Linked DNA regions of Homo sapiens. The protein of the gene in region 2 interacts with the protein of the main gene of each other region in a pairwise test. Each region holds a gene or a part of one and is shown on either strand. Other genes may lie near its edges.

The links.
Region 1: the proteins of MRC2 (region 2) and NDEL1 interact in a two-hybrid assay, tested with the Homo sapiens proteins (2 studies listed by BioGRID and IntAct).

Annotation. Positions count from the first base shown.
Region 1 is NC_000017.11:8,459,879-8,463,527, reverse strand, and holds part of NDEL1 (nuclear distribution protein nudE-like 1), read right to left. Parts: intron 3,520-3,649; coding exon 3,368-3,519; intron 209-3,367; coding exon of another isoform or gene 174-208; intron 1-173. UniProt on the Homo sapiens protein: Required for organization of the cellular microtubule array and microtubule anchoring at the centrosome. May regulate microtubule organization at least in part by targeting the microtubule severing protein KATNA1 to the centrosome.
Region 2 is NC_000017.11:62,679,605-62,683,253, reverse strand, and holds part of MRC2 (C-type mannose receptor 2 precursor), read right to left. Parts: intron 3,455-3,649; coding exon 3,352-3,454; intron 3,085-3,351; coding exon 2,946-3,084; intron 2,837-2,945; coding exon 2,801-2,836; intron 2,455-2,800; coding exon 2,294-2,454; intron 2,193-2,293; coding exon 2,125-2,192; intron 1,418-2,124; coding exon 1,317-1,417; intron 1,020-1,316; coding exon 877-1,019; intron 1-876. UniProt on the Homo sapiens protein: May play a role as endocytotic lectin receptor displaying calcium-dependent lectin activity. Internalizes glycosylated ligands from the extracellular space for release in an endosomal compartment via clathrin-mediated endocytosis.

The DNA.
Region 1 (3,649 bases), about 54 Mb from region 2:
TAACGGCATACAGTCAAGTCGAACAGGACCGTGAAAGTTCACTGATGGGCTGTAAGTTGGTTAAAGCTGAGTCAGCCCCATGCAGTTAGTAAAACCAGATTGTTAATGTGTCTTCCACCACACACCAGGATTAAGAAAGAATGAAAAAGAGCACAGCAAACAAATTCAGTTACCCATGAACAACGTGGGAAATATGACTTTTTCTTGCCTAATAAAAGAAAGGAGAACATATTAAACAGTAATACGAATACTATTTCCACATCACGCCCTAAAATTAGTCCATGCCCACCTACACACAGCCCAAAAGAACTCAGAGTGGCTTACAAAAATAGAGCACATGTTACCTAAGAAACTACATAAAGTTATGGGAAAAAAAAGAGTGTTTTTGAGAGACTCCAAGCGACCACACTCCACATGAAATGTGTGTCCTTTCAGATGGTGAGACAAAGGGTGACCATGGTTGAAGGAAACAGCTCGGCACCTGGGAAGCAGGCACGGCAGCCCATGTTTCAGGAACTGGCAGAAGTGCTCACAGACTAGACAAAAACCTGATTCCAAGAAGCCCTCAAGTGACCAGAATTTACAAAATACTTTTGAATCCCACAGAGCAATACGCCCAGTTAAGGTATATTGTTTTATGTGAGAAGGCTTCACTGCATCTGAAGTTTCAGCGGGTGGGAAGGTGAACACATGTACACCCGCACACATGCACACACACACAAACCTACTTTGATGATGTCTCTCCCCCAAACAATCCTGCCGCAGGTTTCTGGCAGCACTAGTGAGCCATCACCACGGTGCTACAGACTCCTCAGGAGTGAGAGGGAGGGCAGGCAGGTTCTGCAGTGGAGGGCTTTTTCAAATGGGGCACTTTTCTCATGCTGAAACTACAAGCCATACTTCTCCACTTCTACACAGACAGGCTTTTGTGTTTTTAACCTGCCAGAGTGTATAATGGACCTGGGAAGTGGAATATCCTGCCCTTCCTTTTGCGGCTGCTACACAACATCTTGGTTTTTATCTGGTCAACAGGTTGGCAGAAGAAAAGCCAGAGGTAAAAAGCCAGACAGGCCAAAAGCCGGAATCGAAGCAAAGCGGCAAGAAAGTGAAAACACAGCAAAACCCACAAAAGAGTTATCCTCAGGAATACAGCAACTAGAAAGACAACTCCAGCAACAGTAGGTTAATATTTCAGTGCGCATACACAATCCACTTATCATATAAGCTAAACACTCACACAACAGCCAGCCCACAAAAGCATATTTCTTAATAGAAAAGGCACAATGTAAAATGTCTACCATTTAAAACCAAAACTCAGTATCTGCAACTGTTCCGATTGGGAAGCACAGCACATTTCCGGGTTCAGCTCAGGAAGTAAAGCCTACACTTACATCTCGGATGCTCTCAAGGGGCAGAGGTGCAGTCAGTGTGCCCAAGGCCTGTTCCTGGCTTCAGCTCACCCTAAGGTCCCCACATCTCCCTCAGAACAGGCTCACCTCTTGGCAATCCCTGCCCTGGTGCTCTGTCTTGGGAGGCAAGTGGCGGGCAGGAGTAGCGACCCTGAACAGACAGTGTTATCCTTCCCTCCTCGTGACTGTTCTTCAGGGCTTCCACACGCACAGGCACCTGTCCGACCTATCCATTTATGATTCACACCTGCTCTCATGAAAGGCACCTGCGGCCCATCAAGAAATACGATTCCAAGGAGAAACTAATAACTACTCTAGTAGAGGATCATTATAAGTTGTAGGGAAAAATAATTAGGCACTGCTTCCAACATTTATGAAGACTACCCTAAAAGTTCTCCATATCATTCAGGGGAAATGGCTACGCTCATGTAAAACCATCCAGTCATTCCATTTATCATTCCACTATAAAAACAAGGGCTGCCGCAAGTCTGCCTGAAACTCCTAAGCCTGAGGAAAATCAATTTTATGTTTACTCCACCCGAGGAAACCCAATGGTTAGAATAAAGTTCTGATTTCAGCTGGGCGCGGCGGCAAGCCCAGCACTTTGGGAGGCTGAGGCAGGAGGATCACTTGAGCCCAGGAGTTTGAGATCAGCCTAGGCAACAGAGTGAGACCCCCATCTCTTCAAAAGAAAACAAAAATTATTTAAACAAATTTTTTAAGAAAGAATAAAGTTCTAATTTGTATAGTGATGTTTTAGGATGTGCTTTTAATACAAAATCCTTAATGAAATGTATATTCTCCAGGGTAAAATCAGGGACAGAGATCAACCAAAACACTCCACTGCAAGGATAAGAGCCTATTCAGAGTGCACCGTGTGTCGAATCTGCTCCTTTACACATGTGCCATAATTATTGAGGACGGCAGAAAATCCCAGCTGCTTTCAGAGATTGTGAGCGTTTCTAGAGTTGTACCTGCTCTGCTTTCAGAGAAAAACAAGCAAGAATTACCTCTTTGACTCAAAGCAGAGACAGTAGCCAAGGATCACGGGTGCCTGTTGGCTGTTTCAATAACAACTACCTTAGGCAACACCGTGAGCATCCCAGGCCACGGGTCCTAATAGTGACCTATATTAAGGCATACTCATACAACCACGTATTACCATGTAGTATTTAAAAATAAATAAGTAAATTGAGGTAGAATAATATACATGACATGGAAAGATAATGGCAATAGAAGTCATGATAGGCACACTGCAAAGCAATATTTAAAGTATAATCCCGTAACTGTGTTACAAACAACTTAGAGCAGATGCATAAAAATATGATTTGGCATGCCTTGGAATAACTGTAAGGAATGCAGAAACAGTGTGAAGGCAGGAAACCATGACTTTTTAGTTCATATACTTCCATACTAACTGAAATTTTTTGCATTAAGGATGCTTCAACCTTAAAACAATTTTATTTCAATCTTCAAAAAAGCCTTAACTTTATACAAAAGTTGTATCTCCTAAACTGTATTTGATCCAGTGCCTAAGTACTTCAGGGCTTTATATTTCTCTAAAATTCTCACAGGGGATGTCTGTTGTAGAGTTTGCATATATTTAATTGTGATGCTGTCTTCTACCCCAAAAAAATATTTCCAAGTCTGCCAGCCTGTAAGCACCTGGAGAACAGGGACCTTATCGCAGTCATTTTGACTCACCAGAGCCTCACACTGCTGCCTTTCAAGAGTCTGCTTCCCAGGACAGAAGCCTCAGATTCAGGGTTCCTGGGGCAACAGACTCCATGGGGACTAGAGGACAACAACAGACGTCATGTCACCTAAGATTAGAATGATAACAGGCTTCGGGAAGGTTTGTCAAGCTGAGTTTACCTTTTCAAGGCTTCATTATGCTCACTTACTAACCTGTCACTTTACTACTCAAAAAATTATCACTTAAAACATTCAGGACTTACCCTTTGTCGAAGAAAGATGTATGCCCTGATCGAGAGAACTTTGTGCCATTGCCATTCAGCACCCCACAGTTAACATTCCCTGAAATATAGGATTTTCGTGATGCTTGGTCCTTTGCAAAATTCCTGCAAGCTGCTAATTTGGATTCTAAAGCCTACAAAAAAGAAGGAGGAATGATATGGTTGTCAAAACAGTAGCTGCACATAAAAATTTGCATTTCAAACCATTTCTATTTCAAGCCTCAAAACTTACTCATCTCAGTTGATAATGGTGGTTAGTTCAGC
Region 2 (3,649 bases):
CAGGTGATTCACCCGCCTCAGCCTCCCAAAGGGCTGGGATTACAGGCATGACCCACCACGCGCAGCCAAAAAAATGTTTTAAACTTAAAAGTATTTAAAAATCTTTAGCTAATGTTTTATACTCTTTTGTTCTTATACATATTTTACTATATATAATATTAGTCATATTAGTATGGAAGTAGGTTTTATTTACACACACATATACATATATAAGTTAAATGTACACACACATAGTTTGGTCATGTAAGCTCAATATTTTGTTTTACTAATAGGAGTTCATTATCAAAATCTTTGATAATCAGGCCGGCAATCAGGCCGGGCGCGGTGGCTCACATCTGTAATCCCAGCACTTTGGGAGGCCAAGGCAGGTGATCACCTGAGTTCAGGGGTTCGAGACTAGCCTGGCCAACATGGTGAAACCCCATCTCTACTAAAAATACAAAAATTAGCCAGGGGTGGTGGCAGGTGCCTGTAATCCCAGCTACTCGGGAGGCTGAGGCAAGAGAATTGGTTGAACCCAGGAAGCAGAGGTTGCAGTGAGCCGAGATCGCGCCACTGCACTCCAGCCTGGGTGACAAGAGTGAAACTCCTTCTCAAAAAAAAAAAAAAAAAATCTTTGGCAATCACTGATCTAGAACACTCACCAAATTATTTGGACAACCTTGCTTCCCGGAGGATTGGAAGGTGCTACTACAGTGAGTCATTTTCCAAGGAGTCTGGCCCTGGTACTGGAGCCAGGTGAAAGAGAAGTTGGTGGGTACAGGCAAGAGGCCATGAGTTTGGTGCTGCCAAAAGGCCAGGACTCCTGAGGCTCAGCCTTTCCCTGTTCACGTCCTCTCCCCTGACTCCCTTGGGTGCCCCATTGCCACCTCCTACCTTGTTGAGGAACTGGATCCAGTCAGAGGGGCAGCCCCCCAGGGCTGTAGTTGGCAGGTCTGGGGGCTGCGTTTCTTTGGTGACGTTGCTGCGCTTGCAGATGTAGGGCAAGGCTGTCAGGCACCTCTGGTCCCCCCAGTCCTCTGCGGAAAGGGGAGGGGAGGGCAGTCACCCCCAGGGCAGAGCAGGGCAGGGCATGGCTGGCAGCACACTCAGCCTCATGCCCTGAGAGGAGTCTGGGCAGAGGCTCAGGGCCTGTGTCCAGCTCCGAATTCAAGTCTTCTGGACCATGGAGACAGGTCCACCCCTCGCTGAGTCTAGCCTTTATTGGGTTGTGGGAACAAAGAGAATGAGAACAGACTGATGACTTCTGCCCAGGCTCGCCCAGCATTAACCCTTTGCACAGCTGACTGCGCACTCTGCCCCCACCTTGCCCTCACCTCGGCTGGCTGTCATGTACACGCACTTCTTGTCCTTGCCGACAGGCCGAGGTTTGCCTGGTGCCCAGGAGATGAAGTTTATAATGGAACCATCTGTCCATCTGCAATGGCATGGAGCAGAGGTAACTCCAGCACCGGCCCCCAGCTGGGCCTCCACCGGATGCAGCAATGAAGGCCGCAGGAATGGGGGCAGGGAAGGGCCCAGGTTCTGGGGTTTAGTGGCTGTAGGCTGAGGGGTGGAGCTACTGAGCTCAGGGCAGTCAAAGACCCAAGGACCTGGTGCCTCTAGATAAGGCCCCAGCTGTCCCTGGACACTTGCTGCTCCAGAAAAGAAGCCTGAGGACTCCAGGGCAGGAAGCCCAAGGGCAAAAAGACAAGCTCAAATTCTGAGTCCCAGGTGCTCCTGGTCCTTCCTGCCTCAAGCCCCCCAGTACATGGTAAGTAGGCACCAAATACAAAGAGGCCCCCGGATCATCATATGTTCTGCCCACTTCCCCGAGAGGGCCTTAGTCATGATGAATGACACCAGACGTAACAGGAGCTGCCATTATTTAGTAACTAATGTGCTGGATGCTGCGTAAGCACTTCGCATATGTTATTTCTAATCTTCACAAAAATCTTACCAGGCAGGCCTCATATTCCCATTTTCAGATGAGAAAACCAAGGCCCAGAAAGGTTAAGTATCTTGCTCAAGGCCACACAGCCAGCAAGGAAGGGGCAGGGCTGGATTCAAATGCAAGTCTGCCTCTGTGCTCCGTGTGTGGACAGCCAGCCCCCTTCCACATCTGCTGCCTGCCTGGGTTCCTACCTGAAGCGCCCATCGCTCTCAGAGGTGTGCAGGCCGATCCACCAGTGCTGCTCCTGGGCCCGGGAGAACTGGAGAAGCCAGGCGGGCAGGTGTGGGTAGGCAGCCCCCTGCCCTCATCCCGGGCCTGCCCTCCCCCAGCCTGCAGCCCCCTGCTCAATCCAATGCCCACCTTCTGCAAGTTGTGGCTCAGGAAGTCTAGCTCCGCCTGGCTGTGCACCGAGGTCAGCTCGGCCTGGAACCACGTGCAGATGCGCTGCGCCTGCGCCCACGTGGAGTGGTGCTCAAAGAACTTGTACTCGGCCTCCTGGAAGCGCAGCCATTCCCGTCGGCCTGCAGGAGCAGCGCGGGCGTGGGAGCGGCGGCCAGGCAGAGGCTGCACGCCAGGCCCCGGAGGCGGGCGCGGCAGGGCCGGGGCAGAGCCAGGCGGCAGCAGGCGAGCCTGCAGGCACACCGGACCCAGGCAGGCACCGTGCCAGGCCCCAGGCCCCAGGCTTGCCTCGCCTCCCACACGGAAGCAAACAGGGCTGTGGCTGCCTCCGTCCGAGCCAACCCCGTCCCCCTTCTCTCGACCGGAACTCCTCATCCCCTCCATTTCATTCAGGCCTCTCGGGACTTACCCCAGAGTTGACGCCCTCTCCCACGCGATGGGTAGCGGGATGGGCTGGGGGGTGCTCACCTTGAGGGCTGTCGTCGGGCTCCCGCACGTCCGTACCTAGGGGAACAAGGACAAAGACGTTGTGAGGAAAGGAGACCCTCCCTGGAATTCCTGGCCCCGCCACCCTTCGCTCCATCCCGCGTCCCCCAGCGCCACTCCGGCCAACCTCTGGGGATCTTGCAGATCCAGTCCAGCTGTGTGTCGCACTGCATGGCCACCCACTGCAGGGAGGCCAGGTCCAGCACCGCACAGCCTCGGATGTCGTCGTCGTCGTGCCGGCTCCGGTCGAAATTGTGGTAAGAGAACTGGAGGAGGCGGGTGGAGGGAAGAGGAACGTGAGGCGCAAGGTGCAGGCCGCCCCCATGCCCGGAACAGGTGAACAAGAGGCCTGGCCTGAGCTGCGAATTCTCACCGGGGGCCGGGTGACCCCTCTCGGACCTGCTTTCCTGAAGCCGGCTCCGACTGGGGGCCCGGCCCTCAAGAAAACCCGCCCACCTCCAGGCCCCGCCCCAAACAGGCCCCGCCCACCAAGCTCCCGGCCTCGCAGTCCCAAGTACCCCAGGCCCCCTCACCCCTACGCCGTCGCTCCAGCGCCAACTCTGACCCCCTCTGGGATCCCGACGGTTCAGGCCGATCCAGAACCAGTGCTGCTCGTGGATCTCGGGTTCTGATTCACTTCAGCACAACCCAGGAGTGGGGACGGAAGAGATGGGAAGTGAGAGGGGCAGGAACCCAAACGTGCCCCCTGTCCCTTGCAGCTGTGACCGGGGCAGCCCCCAGGGCCTGGGGCCTCTCCATCTGGGCTTCACATTGACCCATCGATACAGCGTTGAGGTCACTTCGGTAAAGTTCTCCCCACAAGACAGAGCT